Homo sapiens: one gene and its partners. The protein of the gene in region 3 interacts with the protein of the main gene of each other region in a biochemical or structural test. Each region holds a gene or a part of one and is shown on either strand. Other genes may lie near its edges.

The links. Proteins that work in one complex are often made in the same cells at the same time.
Region 1: of the proteins of PPP2CA (region 3) and MID1, one has a biochemical effect on the other in vitro, tested with the Homo sapiens proteins (2 studies listed by BioGRID).
Region 2: of the proteins of PPP2CA (region 3) and MAPT, one has a biochemical effect on the other in vitro, tested with the Homo sapiens proteins (2 studies listed by BioGRID).
Region 4: the proteins of PPP2CA (region 3) and RBL2 form a complex in vitro, tested with the Homo sapiens proteins (2 studies listed by BioGRID and IntAct, with this or other methods).

What each region holds. Positions count from the first base shown.
Region 1 is NC_000023.11:10,610,586-10,614,085, forward strand, and holds part of MID1 (E3 ubiquitin-protein ligase Midline-1), read right to left. Parts: intron 1-3,500. UniProt on the Homo sapiens protein: Has E3 ubiquitin ligase activity towards IGBP1, promoting its monoubiquitination, which results in deprotection of the catalytic subunit of protein phosphatase PP2A, and its subsequent degradation by polyubiquitination.
Region 2 is NC_000017.11:45,981,554-45,985,053, forward strand, and holds part of MAPT (microtubule-associated protein tau), read left to right. Parts: intron 1-1,312; coding exon 1,313-2,377; intron 2,378-3,500. UniProt on the Homo sapiens protein: Promotes microtubule assembly and stability, and might be involved in the establishment and maintenance of neuronal polarity.
Region 3 is NC_000005.10:134,195,074-134,198,573, reverse strand, and holds part of PPP2CA (serine/threonine-protein phosphatase 2A catalytic subunit alpha isoform), read left to right. Parts: intron 1-729; coding exon 730-802; 3' UTR 803-3,500. UniProt on the Homo sapiens protein: Catalytic subunit of protein phosphatase 2A (PP2A), a serine/threonine phosphatase involved in the regulation of a wide variety of enzymes, signal transduction pathways, and cellular events.
Region 4 is NC_000016.10:53,461,971-53,465,470, forward strand, and holds part of RBL2 (retinoblastoma-like protein 2), read left to right. Parts: intron 1-581; coding exon 582-685; intron 686-2,255; coding exon 2,256-2,393; intron 2,394-3,467; coding exon 3,468-3,500. UniProt on the Homo sapiens protein: Key regulator of entry into cell division. Directly involved in heterochromatin formation by maintaining overall chromatin structure and, in particular, that of constitutive heterochromatin by stabilizing histone methylation.

The DNA of each region.
Region 1 (3,500 bases), on a different chromosome or scaffold from region 3:
TAAGAGGAGGGAAATATATTTACATTTGCCTACAACAAGCAGAAAAATTGCTGTAGAAATTGATATCACAACAGGAGACACATGGTATACTATAATTCACAACTTTGGGCAGCTTGGGAATGACGATGTTTACATACCAATTAGGGACTCAAGAAATCCTATAAAGTTTTTCTTCAGGATCCTAGTATTCAAATTAGCATAAGGATCAGACATGGAATATAATCTCTGAGGTGAATGTTTCAAACAATGTTTGAAGCCCCCTGGGATCACACAATTAGGAGTTGTGCCTATCTCAATTACTTTCATACTGTTTCTTTACATGATCCAATGCTAATCAACAATTTACCTGGTTAAAATTTAGTTGGTTTGGTTATGCTCTGAAGAGGACACTCCCTTCTTATGTTTTCTGCACTCAGGCAGGAGACTTGTAAAGGAGCTAACAACAAAGGGATTTTTAACCTTCAAAGCCTTAATTAGAAAATAAGAGCAAATGGTACATTTTTAAAGAGGAACCAGGAATACATATTCTTGTGGGCTTTTGCCTCATTACATTTGTTAATAAGGAATGCCAAAACATGTGCACCAAAAAGCGTTCAAGGTCTTTTGGTAGTAAATTATACTTGTAAATTTGATGTAAGTTGATCACTTGAAGAACTCACACTCTTTGAAGATTAGAATTCATAAATGTATGAAAGAATTAAATGGTTCTTTCCTCTAGTGATATAAAGTATTAAATGACAGAAAAAAATGTGTTCGAAATCAACTGCGGAAATAATTCATTTTGAAAAGTATTCAATAAAAATGTTAAATGGGAAAAATATGCTAAGCCCGTTTCTGCTGGATGAAGAAGTAAAGCAGAAACATGAAAAGGGCAAATTTAAGGATGATGGGCTGGGAAATGTCCCATCAGCCTCACAGTTTTACTTTTTGTTATTCAACTATGGCAGTTCTAGGCCCAGTAATCTATTCCATCCCCATAAGACAAAGAAAAAAAGACTAATTCTGATCAGCAGAAAACTGGATGGCCTCTAGGAACCTTCAAGAGGGCAGTAGCTCCGGATCAAGGAGAAATGAATGCCTTTAAAGAGGCATCTTAGATTGTTTTGTTAATACATAAAATCCTCTCTCTTTATCATGCAGAAGTCTCATTTCAAAAGGAAAATGCAAGTCAATGAGGATTAGTTTGGCTCCTCAGAGGTCAGAACTAAATATACAAAAACTAATAATATGACACTGAAATAAACAAGAATGTGGAATTGCTCATCCGAAGGGATGATGTAACTAATATTGACATAATTTCCAAGCAGAAAAGCAAAACTAGGTCAAAGCACGATGGCCTAACATAATAAGCATTTTTGTTTCCAGATTTTTACCATGTAGGCTGTGTCTGCAGGCATTAATGTCTTCTGTTATCAATGTTCGGGGCTGTCACAAACAATTCATGTCTTATCACTCTTTGTTAGTTAAACCAAAACAATGTAGTTTATATGTGAACCATTCAATTCTGACAGCTGAAATGTTAGAAAGCGGAGAAATATTCAGAAAGTGTCTCTTCCAGACTGAGAAGCATCAAGCAATAAATATTCATTATCTAATAGTCTATCATGTTTTTATCTACTCAGAAAGTCATACCCCTCTCAATTAATTATTATGACTGTTTTCCCTCTTTTAGTCAGAGCCGTACAAAAAGGGCAGCAACAATCTCATTAGGATTTCACTTTAAACATTGACCACTGAAAAGGAACTCAAGTGAATCACTCACCAAATAGCCAATTTTTCTCTACCGCTTTCCCCATCATATGTTGACTAAAAGAAGTCACGCTTTCTTCTCTCGTCTATTTGTTCCATTTTACCTTCCTGCACTATTTCCTCAAAGCACAGCTGATTAATTCATGGGCTAAATGACTCATCTCATTCCCTAAACTTTCTTTTATATAAATATAATCCTCCTAGTTTTTGCTGTCTGACATTTTCATACTTAACTAAAATCAGAGCAAAGAATATACACATAAAAGAAGCACAAAACCCAAATATAAGATCATTTAACTATTTGGATTTTTTGGACAGTATTTTCCACTAAAGATGATGTAGTCTTTCCTGAGTTGCCTCATTATAAACCAACATTCCATTCAAATTGCCTTGGAATTTATTAGCATATTGAATTATAGCACATGACCTGAAAACATCCAAATTATATCTTAGTAGAAGGCATGTGGTACAGTCACAAAAGAGAATGAGATGGGGAGTCTAGAAGACTTAGCTTCTAGGTGTAGAACCTAAGTCTCCCTCATACCTTGCTCCCAGATGGAGGGTAAAGTGTTTCTTGTGCTAAAACGTCAACCCAGAAATGCTAAACTTTAACCAGTATTCTTAGTCTGGATTCCTAATGTATTTCGTACAGAAGACTTGATCCTATGTAAGTAAATAAATCTCTATTAATAATATTTGGTGGTGCCGTCCATCTATATATTGCTTTATTTGGCCATTCATCTACTTATTATTAACTCAGCAGGGCATTCAATGAATTCCATTTTCCCAGTAACATCCCCCTTCCTCCGAATTGTTTGGGGAAGACCACTTCTAAATACACACAACCAAAGCAACACTCCAAAACTTGACATAGGACAGATACCACAGTCTACCGCATAGACCCTTTGGTAATATATTAGTCCTGTTGTTTCCATAAACTATTAAATGTCCCTGAAATTTCTATTTTGTCATTTTTAACTATAACTTCTGGTCTGTTACACCTACCAGCAATGAAAATGCTTTGTCCGGCACAAATCTTGAACTTCACTATGAAAAATGTGGCCACCATCTACATGGAGAAGGCTTCAGTCTTCTCTCAGACACGCTATCTCAGTTCTGGAGTAACCTTGGGCATGCCACTCACCTGCAAAATTAAACAACTGCACATGGACCTAAGGCCTAAACTATCAGGCTGGGTTCAATGAGAGAAAGCAGCAGATTCTATCTTGGCGATTAGGCTTTGAGCTATTGGAGGGCATGACCCATTTCGTAATCATTTCTGCAGAACAATCAAACAGAGGATAAGCCAAGCTGCTTACCATGTTTTGGGTTGTGTTCTTGCCCAGAACACAACTGAAAGGAATATATATATATATATATATATATATATATATATATAGAGAGAGAGAGAGAGAGAGAGAGAGAGAGAGAGAGACAGACAGACAGACAGACAGACAGAGAGAGACTATGTGTATATAAATGGACTATATATATATAAAACCATATACATATAGTTCAGTAATCATAACCTATGCTAATTTTCTCTACTACTGATCTATTTAGTCCTTGCTGTTTCCCGGACCTTTCTAATGCCCTTTCTTCTTCATATCCCTTCGGATTTTAAGGAGCATTTTCCATTCTCTTTTTTACTAAAATTCACCCAGCATGTGCCTGTAGAACACTTAATGATTCTTATTGTGTGCCAGACACTGGGCTTGGGTCTGGGGATTCAAAGGTAATTAATATGTGAC
Region 2 (3,500 bases), on a different chromosome or scaffold from region 3:
TGTCTGTGGTCAGTGACCTGGATAGATCTGAATGGGGCTTCTTTTTCGAGGAGTCTTATGGCAGGTCTCTCAGTAAAGACTCCATTCTTGATGATCACACATTTTGGATTTTCCAAATCTGTCAGAGAATGGGCTTGAGGCGGGGTTTGTGGGCACTAGTTTCACTGGTTTCATTTACCAAAAAGGGGAGCAGAAGTCAAGTATGGTGGCTCATCCCTGTAATCCCAGAGGCAAGAGAATTGCTTGAGCCCAGGAGTTCGAGACCAGCCTGAGCAACATAAGGAGACCCCGTCTCCACAAAAATGAAAAATAACATTTTAGTCAGACGTGGTGGCATGCATCTGTGGTCCCAGCTGCTTGGGAGGGTGAGATGGGAGGGTTGTTTGAGCCCTGGAGTTAAAGTTGCAATGAGCTGTGATTGCACCACTGCACTCTAGCCTGGGTGACAGAACGAGACCCTGTCTCAAAAAAAAAAAAAAAGAAAGAAAGAAAGGAAAAAAAAAACTCATGCCTGTAATCCCAGCACTTTGGGGACCGGGGTGGGCAGATCACGAGGTCAGGAGATCAAGACTATCCTGGCCAACATGGTGAAACCCCGTTTCTACTAAAAATACAAAAATTAGCCAGGTGTGGTGGCACGTGCCTGTAATCCCAGTTACTCGGGAGGCTGAGGCAGGAGAATCGCTTGAACCAGGGAGTCAGAGGTTGCAGTGAGCTGAGATCGTGCCACTGTACTCCAGCCTGGGCGACAGAGTGAGACTCTGTCTCAAACCAAAAAAAAGGGGTGGGGGGCGGGGGCAGGAGAACAGTGAGAGGTAGGGAGAGGAAAGGGGATTCTCGCTACACCCAAACCAGATACCATCTAGAGGCTAGAATCTTTGGGAGGCTCAAATTCCCTAGAAAGCAGGAGAAGCTTCTGTAGCCCTCCCGCTTTCCCAGTAGATTAAGCCCAGGGCGGCTCCAGATGTGTGACATGCTCTGTGCCCAACCAGAGCCCATCATAGGCAGAGGAATAACACCCACACCAGAAGGGCCCTCGGAGGTCACCACGTCCAAGAACCCTCTTTACAGATGAGGAAACTGAGGCCCAGAGAGGGGAGAGCCACCTAGCGAGCTGGTGGCGGCTAGACCAGGAGAGCTGTCATTCCAAGCAAGCAAAGGCAACGAGACGAGCCCAGAGCTGTGCTCCCATCTCTTTGTTAGGGGGCCTGGGATGCCCTCTCAGTGTCATTTTGTCCAGGATGATGCTCCCTCTCTTAAGCGATTAATGCGCCCTTGCTAACCTTTTGCTATCGCTGCCTCTTCAAACCAGAGGAGTTGAGAGTTCCGGGCCGGCAGAGGAAGGCGCCTGAAAGGCCCCTGGCCAATGAGATTAGCGCCCACGTCCAGCCTGGACCCTGCGGAGAGGCCTCTGGGGTCTCTGGGCCGTGCCTCGGGGAGAAAGAGCCAGAAGCTCCCGTCCCGCTGACCGCGAGCCTTCCTCAGCACCGTCCCGTTTGCCCAGCGCCTCCTCCAACAGGAGGCCCTCAGGAGCCCTCCCTGGAGTGGGGACAAAAAGGCGGGGACTGGGCCGAGAAGGGTCCGGCCTTTCCGAAGCCCGCCACCACTGCGTATCTCCACACAGAGCCTGAAAGTGGTAAGGTGGTCCAGGAAGGCTTCCTCCGAGAGCCAGGCCCCCCAGGTCTGAGCCACCAGCTCATGTCCGGCATGCCTGGGGCTCCCCTCCTGCCTGAGGGCCCCAGAGAGGCCACACGCCAACCTTCGGGGACAGGACCTGAGGACACAGAGGGCGGCCGCCACGCCCCTGAGCTGCTCAAGCACCAGCTTCTAGGAGACCTGCACCAGGAGGGGCCGCCGCTGAAGGGGGCAGGGGGCAAAGAGAGGCCGGGGAGCAAGGAGGAGGTGGATGAAGACCGCGACGTCGATGAGTCCTCCCCCCAAGACTCCCCTCCCTCCAAGGCCTCCCCAGCCCAAGATGGGCGGCCTCCCCAGACAGCCGCCAGAGAAGCCACCAGCATCCCAGGCTTCCCAGCGGAGGGTGCCATCCCCCTCCCTGTGGATTTCCTCTCCAAAGTTTCCACAGAGATCCCAGCCTCAGAGCCCGACGGGCCCAGTGTAGGGCGGGCCAAAGGGCAGGATGCCCCCCTGGAGTTCACGTTTCACGTGGAAATCACACCCAACGTGCAGAAGGAGCAGGCGCACTCGGAGGAGCATTTGGGAAGGGCTGCATTTCCAGGGGCCCCTGGAGAGGGGCCAGAGGCCCGGGGCCCCTCTTTGGGAGAGGACACAAAAGAGGCTGACCTTCCAGAGCCCTCTGAAAAGCAGCCTGCTGCTGCTCCGCGGGGGAAGCCCGTCAGCCGGGTCCCTCAACTCAAAGGTCTGTGTCTTGAGCTTCTTCGCTCCTTCCCTGGGGACCTCCCAGGCCTCCCAGGCTGCGGGCACTGCCACTGAGCTTCCAGGCCTCCCGACTCCTGCTGCTTCTGACGTTCCTAGGACGCCACTAAATCGACACCTGGGTGCAGCTGCTCCACTCCCTCGGCCTCCTCCCGTGCTCAGGCTGTGGCCGCACGCGCCCCTCACGCTTGCCCGCCACTCTGCATGTCACCAGCACCCCCGCTCCGTGCTACCCACCTTGTTTGACTCTCTGGCCACTTGATTTGTCCACAACGGCCCATCAGCCCACAGGAGGTTTGGTGGGTGCCTTCCACCGACAGGATGACGGGTGCCCTCATGGTGTCTAGAACTCTCCAACCCTCCCATGTAGGCATAAGCAGCCCCACTTTGCAGATGAGGAAACGGAGGCTCAGAGAAGTACAGTAACTTGCCGAAGGCCAATGAGTAGTAAGTGACAGAGCCAGGTTTGGGATCCAGGTAGGTTGTCTCTGAAAGACACGCCTGTCCTGCATCCCACAACGCCTCCCAGGAGGTGCTGGAGTGTGGACGCCTAACACAGAGATGTGCAGGGCACACACAGCAGGTGACACACACAGCATCCAGAGGTGGCCCAGAGCTCATGCTGTGCCTTTGGCCCAGTGCCCTGCCCCCACCCACTCTGCCTTGTGGCAGGAAGACAAGGAGCAGACACAAGATCTCCCTGGTCCACATGCCACCACCTCCCTCTGCAGAGGACAAGGGGATCCTCATGCTGGCATTGGAGGGGGTTGAGCAGGGCCCACCTTGAGCCCTCAGGAGCACGACCACAGCAGCCCTGCAGGGAGGGATTGGTGGGAGGAGAGTCCCAAGTATCAGGGAGAGGAGAGTTGGTGTCCCACAGGAGACCTCAGAGCCACAAGGCGAGCTTGTTCATAAATTTGGGACCCTTAGCATTTCACAGTTATTTGCAGAGCCCAGAAATGGATGTTACTGAAGCTCACAGTTGCAAGCATCTGTTAAATTTTTATTAGATTTTACTTTTAGGGAAAACTTTGAAATGCTATAAAGAAGCCTGTGTTTAAAAGTTAAGACAGAGGCTGGGGGCGATGGCTCACGCCTGTAATCTC
Region 3 (3,500 bases):
TTATTAAGGGATTATGCTATGTCAGATTCCAACTTTTATTTTTAAGTTTTGTTTTTTTTTTAATGGATCTACATTGAAACACACCAACAGGAACTTATTATATATAGATCTTCGTATGAATTACTAGGTTTTTCACTTTTAAAACCATGTTTTGTGTTTTTTTGTTGTTTGTTTGTTTTTTGAGACGGAGTCTCACTCTGTCACCCAGGCTGGAGTGCAGTGGTGCGATCTTGGCTGACTGCAAGCTCTGCCTCCCGGGTTCACACCATTCTCCTGCCTCAGCCTCCCGAGTAGCTGGGATTACAGGCGTCTGCCACCACGCCCGGCTAATTTTTTTGTATTTTTTTAGTAGATATGGGGTTTCACCGTGGTAGCCAGGATGGTCTTGATCTCCTGACCTCGTGATCCGCCCGCCTCAGCCTCCCAAAGTGCTGGGATTACAGGCGTGAGCCACTGCGCCCGGCCAACCATGTTTTGTTTTGTTTTGTTTGAAATTTCAGTCAAGGTAAAAACCATGTTTTTATAAAAGCATAGTCTCTGTGGCTGAAGTTGCCTTGACTCTTTCAAGGGGAGTACAGTTAACAGACCATTATCATTAAGGTTCTGTTACATTAAGACAAGCCAAAATTGAATAGGAAGTGTAAAGTTTGGAAGACTCATGTTCTTGATCTTGATTGTCACTACATGGAGGTCGTGGAACATAAACCATGAATCGGTCTTGTTTTTCAGCTTGCAGTTTGACCCAGCACCTCGTAGAGGCGAGCCACATGTTACTCGTCGTACCCCAGACTACTTCCTGTAATGAAATTTTAAACTTGTACAGTATTGCCATGAACCATATATCGACCTAATGGAAATGGGAAGAGCAACAGTAACTCCAAAGTGTCAGAAAATAGTTAACATTCAAAAAACTTGTTTTCACATGGACCAAAAGATGTGCCATATAAAAATACAAAGCCTCTTGTCATCAACAGCCGTGACCACTTTAGAATGAACCAGTTCATTGCATGCTGAAGCGACATTGTTGGTCAAGAAACCAGTTTCTGGCATAGCGCTATTTGTAGTTACTTTTGCTTTCTCTGAGAGACTGCAGATAATAAGATGTAAACATTAACACCTCGTGAATACAATTTAACTTCCATTTAGCTATAGCTTTACTCAGCATGACTGTAGATAAGGATAGCAGCAAACAATCATTGGAGCTTAATGAACATTTTTAAAAATAATTACCAAGGCCTCCCTTCTACTTGTGAGTTTTGAAATTGTTCTTTTTATTTTCAGGGATACCGTTTAATTTAATTATATGATTTGTCTGCACTCAGTTTATTCCCTACTCAAATCTCAGCCCCATGTTGTTCTTTGTTATTGTCAGAACCTGGTGAGTTGTTTTGAACAGAACTGTTTTTTCCCCTTCCTGTAAGACGATGTGACTGCACAAGAGCACTGCAGTGTTTTTCATAATAAACTTGTGAACTAAGAACTGAGAAGGTCAAATTTTAATTGTATCAATGGGCAAGACTGGTGCTGTTTATTAAAAAAGTTAAATCAATTGAGTAAATTTTAGAATTTGTAGACTTGTAGGTAAAATAAAAATCAAGGGCACTACATAACCTCTCTGGTAACTCCTTGACATTCTTCAGATTAACTTCAGGATTTATTTGTATTTCACATATTACAATTTGTCACATTGTTGGTGTGCACTTTGTGGGTTCTTCCTGCATATTAACTTGTTTGTAAGAAAGGAAATCTGTGCTGCTTCAGTAAGACTTAATTGTAAAACCATATAACTTGAGATTTAAGTCTTTGGGTTTTGTTTTAATAAAACAGCATGTTTTCAGGTAGAGCTTAAACTAAATGATGTGTTTACTTAGTGCAGTTTCTGGTTATGAATATTATATTGCTATGTGTATATTATATGGACTCTTTAAAATGATTGACAGATTGGCAAATTCTTAAATCTTTGTACATTGTTGAGTCATATGTTCTTAGAGTTAAATTTGTCTCAGATAAGAAAGTGTTAAAGCATTAGCCTGTGTCAAGTTCTTTGAGTGATACTAGTGAAACCAAATAGAAAACTATTGTTGGATCATGATTTAGTCTTATGTACATTCACCCGAAGACAAAAATGGTACTTAAAGTGGCAGTGTTCAACATTTAATGAGTTTTTCCCCTTTTATCCTTCGAATAGGATTAGATGTTTAAAAAAAAGTTCTTCTGTGGGAACTAATATTTGATATTTTAACCTACCAGAGTAAACAGGAACACTTAATCATACTTGTGAGTGTAGTAAATAAAAGTTTTCTTGCTTTGTGCTGTGTTGAATCTGGAACCAACAGGGAAGTTATAGCATATCCCCTTTCTAAAATGCTTGAGGAACACATACATACCGAATGTCTTTTCTGATCTAATTGATAGTATTTTTAGTGGCTTGTGGAGTTAATTTTCCAAAGCAAAAGGCCATTAGGGTTTCTACATTTCATTTCATTTCATTCTTTTCTTTCACAAGAAATACATTCTCTGTGTGTCTTTTTGTTGCTCTGTCACTCTATGCCCTTTCTCTCCGACTGAACAAATAGCTTATCCATGTGCAGTGGTTTTAATACCCAAACAATCTAGACACCAAGCAGCTATTTTTTCCGGTCCTGTGATATCAGAATTGACCAAGGAATACGTATATTGTAATTGACACGTGGTGGTATCTTCCAGGTACAAATTCTCTAAATTTTGTGGTTAGCAGAATGGGACTTGTGATAAGAATAGCTTGGTTTTAGCATAACTAGGGTTTAAAATAATTGTTTAATTATAGAGACTGACCGGGCTTTGGCCATCTAAACTGGAAAGTGTTAGTACCCTACCTTCTTTTGAAAATGGCTATGGTAAGGAAAATGTGTTAGTAAATTATGTATTTTCTTGAAAAATACATAATTATGGTTGGATGGGAATCACTAAGTTGGGTGTTAACTGATGTCTCAATTAGTAACATTAGGATTTTCATTAATAAACCTAAAAAGCTTTCCCTAAGAACAGGCCTGGCACAGTGGCTCATGCCTGTAATCCCAGCACTTTGGGAGACCAGGGTGGGTGGATCCCTTGAGGTCAGGAGTTGAAGAGCAGCCTGGCCAACATGGCAAAACCCCATCTCTACAAAAAATATGAAAATCAGCCGGGCTTGGTGGCATACCATAGTCCCAGCTACTTGGGAGGCTGAGGTGAGAGGATCGCCTGAGCCCAGGAGATGGAGGTTGCAGTGGGCTGAGATTGTGCCACTGTACTCCAGTCTGGGTGACAGAGCCAGACCCTGTCTCAAAAATAAAGAGGATTCTGAGTTTGTATAGTGAGGGCTTGCAGAAATTTTGAAACTTATTTTGTAAGTTTACAATGAATTTGTACATGATGTGCTCATGTCTTGGGTTGAGTATCCTAGACATGATTTTTTCATTTGCTGCATATTAAACATTTGTTGGTTGTAGTCGGTATTTCTTAAATAGAAGTTTGTCAAT
Region 4 (3,500 bases), on a different chromosome or scaffold from region 3:
GCTGTCCAATTTTTCTGGTCAACCAACTGATTTCTGAGCCCTTCTCAGTAAGATAGAAATTTTAGAATGGTATCTTTATTATATTGGACTTCTGATGCTTTTTTATCTGCAAATCTTTAGGTTTTTTTTGTAAACTGGAAATTAAATAGAAGTGTAGTGATTCTTCAACATATTGAGAATAAGGACAGGAGATATCACTGTTATGGGCCCAAACCTGGCCTAGGAATTGTTTGCTGTCAGGAATTGGAACTAAGTAGGTGTGGACTAGTAAGCCAATTACATACCTCTTAGCATTGGTCTGTTTTGTTCAAACATAGAGGAAAAAAAAGGGTGTTAGTCTTAAATGATATTACAGTTCCTTATGTGCAAATTTCATTTAATAATTTTAGAAAAATGTGACTGTTACCATGAAGAAAATTAAGGTATCTTAGGGATAATTAAAACACCAATCATAAGAAGTGTGCATATCTAAAGTATTGGGTTGGTTTTGAATTTTATTTTGTGAGTAAAGGAGGAGGAATGGGCCTTTATTTTCTTTGTGTGCCATTTTTGTGGGGTTTTTTTTTTTATTATTTCTACAGAAATTGCCAGCAAACATTTTCGTTTTGCGGAGATGCTTTACTATAAAGTATTAGAATCTGTTATTGAGCAGGAACAAAAAAGACTAGGAGACATGGATTTATCTGTGAGTAAAATAACCAATGTATTGATCAGCGCAATGAAACATAATTTCCTTCCTGCCCTATTCTGTGGGTTGTTTTTTTTACTTTATATATAGTCTCCTTTCATACACAAAAGTTTTTAATTTTGATGAAATCCAATATATTTTTTCACTAGTTGCCTGTGCTTTTGTTTTATGTATGTATGTATGTATGTATTTACCTATTTGAGATGGAGTCTTGCGCTGTCGCCAAGGCTGGAGTGTAGTGGCACGATCTCGGCTCAATGCAACCTCCGCCTCCTGGGTTCAAGCAATTCTCCTGCCTCAGTCTCCCAAATAGCTGGGATTATAGGCATGTGCCACCATGCCCAGCTCATTTTTGTATTTTTCGTAGAGATGGGGTTTTGCCATGTTGGCCAGGCTGGTCTTGAACTCCAGACGTCAGGTGGTCCGCATGCCTTGGCCTCCCAAAGTGCTAGGATTACAGGCGTGAGCCACCGCACCTGGCCTGTTGCCTGTGCCTTTGGTGCTTCAGTAGCTTTTAATTAAAAAATAATAATTATTGACAATGTTGGAAAATTATAAGCAAAAAGAACAAAATAAAAATCATCTATGATTAATGTCATCCTATGATAAACATATTCACTTTTGGTACATGGTCATCTAGCCAGTCACCTGCCTGCCTGCCTTTCTGTTTTTTTGGGTTTGTTGTTGAGACAGAGTCTCACTCTCTTGCCCAGGCTAGAGTGCAGTGGTGCAATCTCGGCTCACTGCAACCTCTGCCTCCCAGATTCAAGTGATTCTTGAACAGTGTTGCCTGGGCTGGTCTCAAACTCTGGACCTCAGGTGATCTGCCTGCTTCGGCCTTCCAAAGTGCTGGAATTACAGGTATGAGCCACCTGCCTGGCCCCTTTCAATATTTTTTTTTCCTTTTTTTTTTTTTTTTTTTTTTTTGAGCCAGAGTTTCGCTCTTGTTGCTCAGGCTGGAGTGCAGTGGTGCAACGTCGGCTTACTGCAACCTCTACCTCCTGGGTTCAATTGCTTCTCCTGCCTCAGCCTCTGAGTAGCTGGGACTACAGGTGTGTGCCACCACACCTGGCTAATTTTCTATTTTTAGTAGAGATGGGGTTTCACCATGTTGGTCAGGCTGGTCTCAAACTCCTGACGTCAGGTGATCTGCCCACCTTGGCCTCCCAAAGTGCTGGGATTACAGGCGTGAGCCACTGCGCCCGGTCCCCCTTTCAGTTTTTTATAGCACTTACTGTAAATACTGTTTTGAAACATCTTTCCCTGTCATTGTTCTTCTAAGCATCAGTGTGTGTGTGTATTTTGGTTAGAGATGTAATCTCTTTTAAGATACATTTTATAATAGGTAAGGTTTTAAAATTCTCATACATTCCTTTTATATATTTCCTCTACTAAAAAATGGGCTTTATTTATATAATTAAGAAAGGTTTTGTAAGAAAATAAGGACACACTTTGCACTCACTCAGAAAATGAGACTTTCTTTGGTATTTTCACTTAAGTTCACTGGGTATGAAATGACTTTTTAGACTAAGTAAATGTTTCTAATGCTAATAACTTTATTTTATAGGGTATTCTGGAACAAGATGCGTTCCACAGATCTCTCTTGGCCTGCTGCCTTGAGGTCGTCACTTTTTCTTATAAGCCTCCTGGGAATTTTCCATTTATTACTGAAATATTTGATGTGCCTCTTTATCATTTTTATAAGGTATTTTTAAAAATATGATACTAATGGGGATATTGTAGATGAGACCAACTTCCTGTTGTTAGTCATTTAGTTCAAGTTAACATCTAAGAACATTTATTCTGTTTTTATTTACATAGTTAATCTCTATTTGTGGAGTAGAAAAGAAATAGAATCTTAAGACCTATGTAAATTCTTTTAATATTGTATGAAAGATCTATTTTGGGTAAAAGCTTTGATTCCTCTCTATCTAATAAAAGTTTTTAGAATACTGTGATTTTTATGAGCTGAGAAGGCTTAAAAAAAGTAGCACACATGTCACTAGCTAATCTTGTATAGCAGCCTTTTTTTATTTTATGAAAATTAAATACCATTGAAAATGTCAGAAAAAAAATAAAAAGTTCTCTTTCATGTGTTACAGAGAGGCATAGAGTTAAAGCATTGATTTGGTAGCTAGTTCTTTTTTTTTTTTGAGATGGAGTCTTGCTCTGTCGCCCAGGCTGGAGTGCAGTGGCGCCATCTCAGCTCACAGCAAGCTCCACCTCCTGGGTTCACGCCATTCTCCTGCCTCAGCCTGCCGAGTAGCTGGGACTACAGGCGGCCGCCACCACACCCGGCTAATTTTTTGTATTTTTAGTAGAGACGGGGTTTCACCGTGTTAGCCAGGATGGTCTCGATCTCCTGACCTCGTGATCTGCCCGCCACGGCCCCCCAGAGTGCTGGGATTACAGGCTGGTAGCTATTTCTTGATACTGACTTAGCATATGAGTTTATCTTAACTCTCATAAGATAGTCAAAACTAATTTTTATAGTGGCATAGATTAAATGTTTAGAGATTTTTATATGAAATTTTAAGAGTAATGTTTTTCAACCTCAATGTACAAAACATGTATTTTCATTAAAAAATTTTGAAATACATCACAATGTAAACCATTTTATATAATTCATAGTTTGAACTATAATTATTTACAAAGACAGTAAAAGGAAGAGCGGCTGTTTCAAAATAATACTTCAACTTGTAATTTTGACTAATTTCTTGTCTAAATATTTAAAAATATTTAATAATTATTCAGTGAACCAAGACATTTTTTATTTCAGGTGATAGAAGTATTCATTAGAGCAGAAGATGGC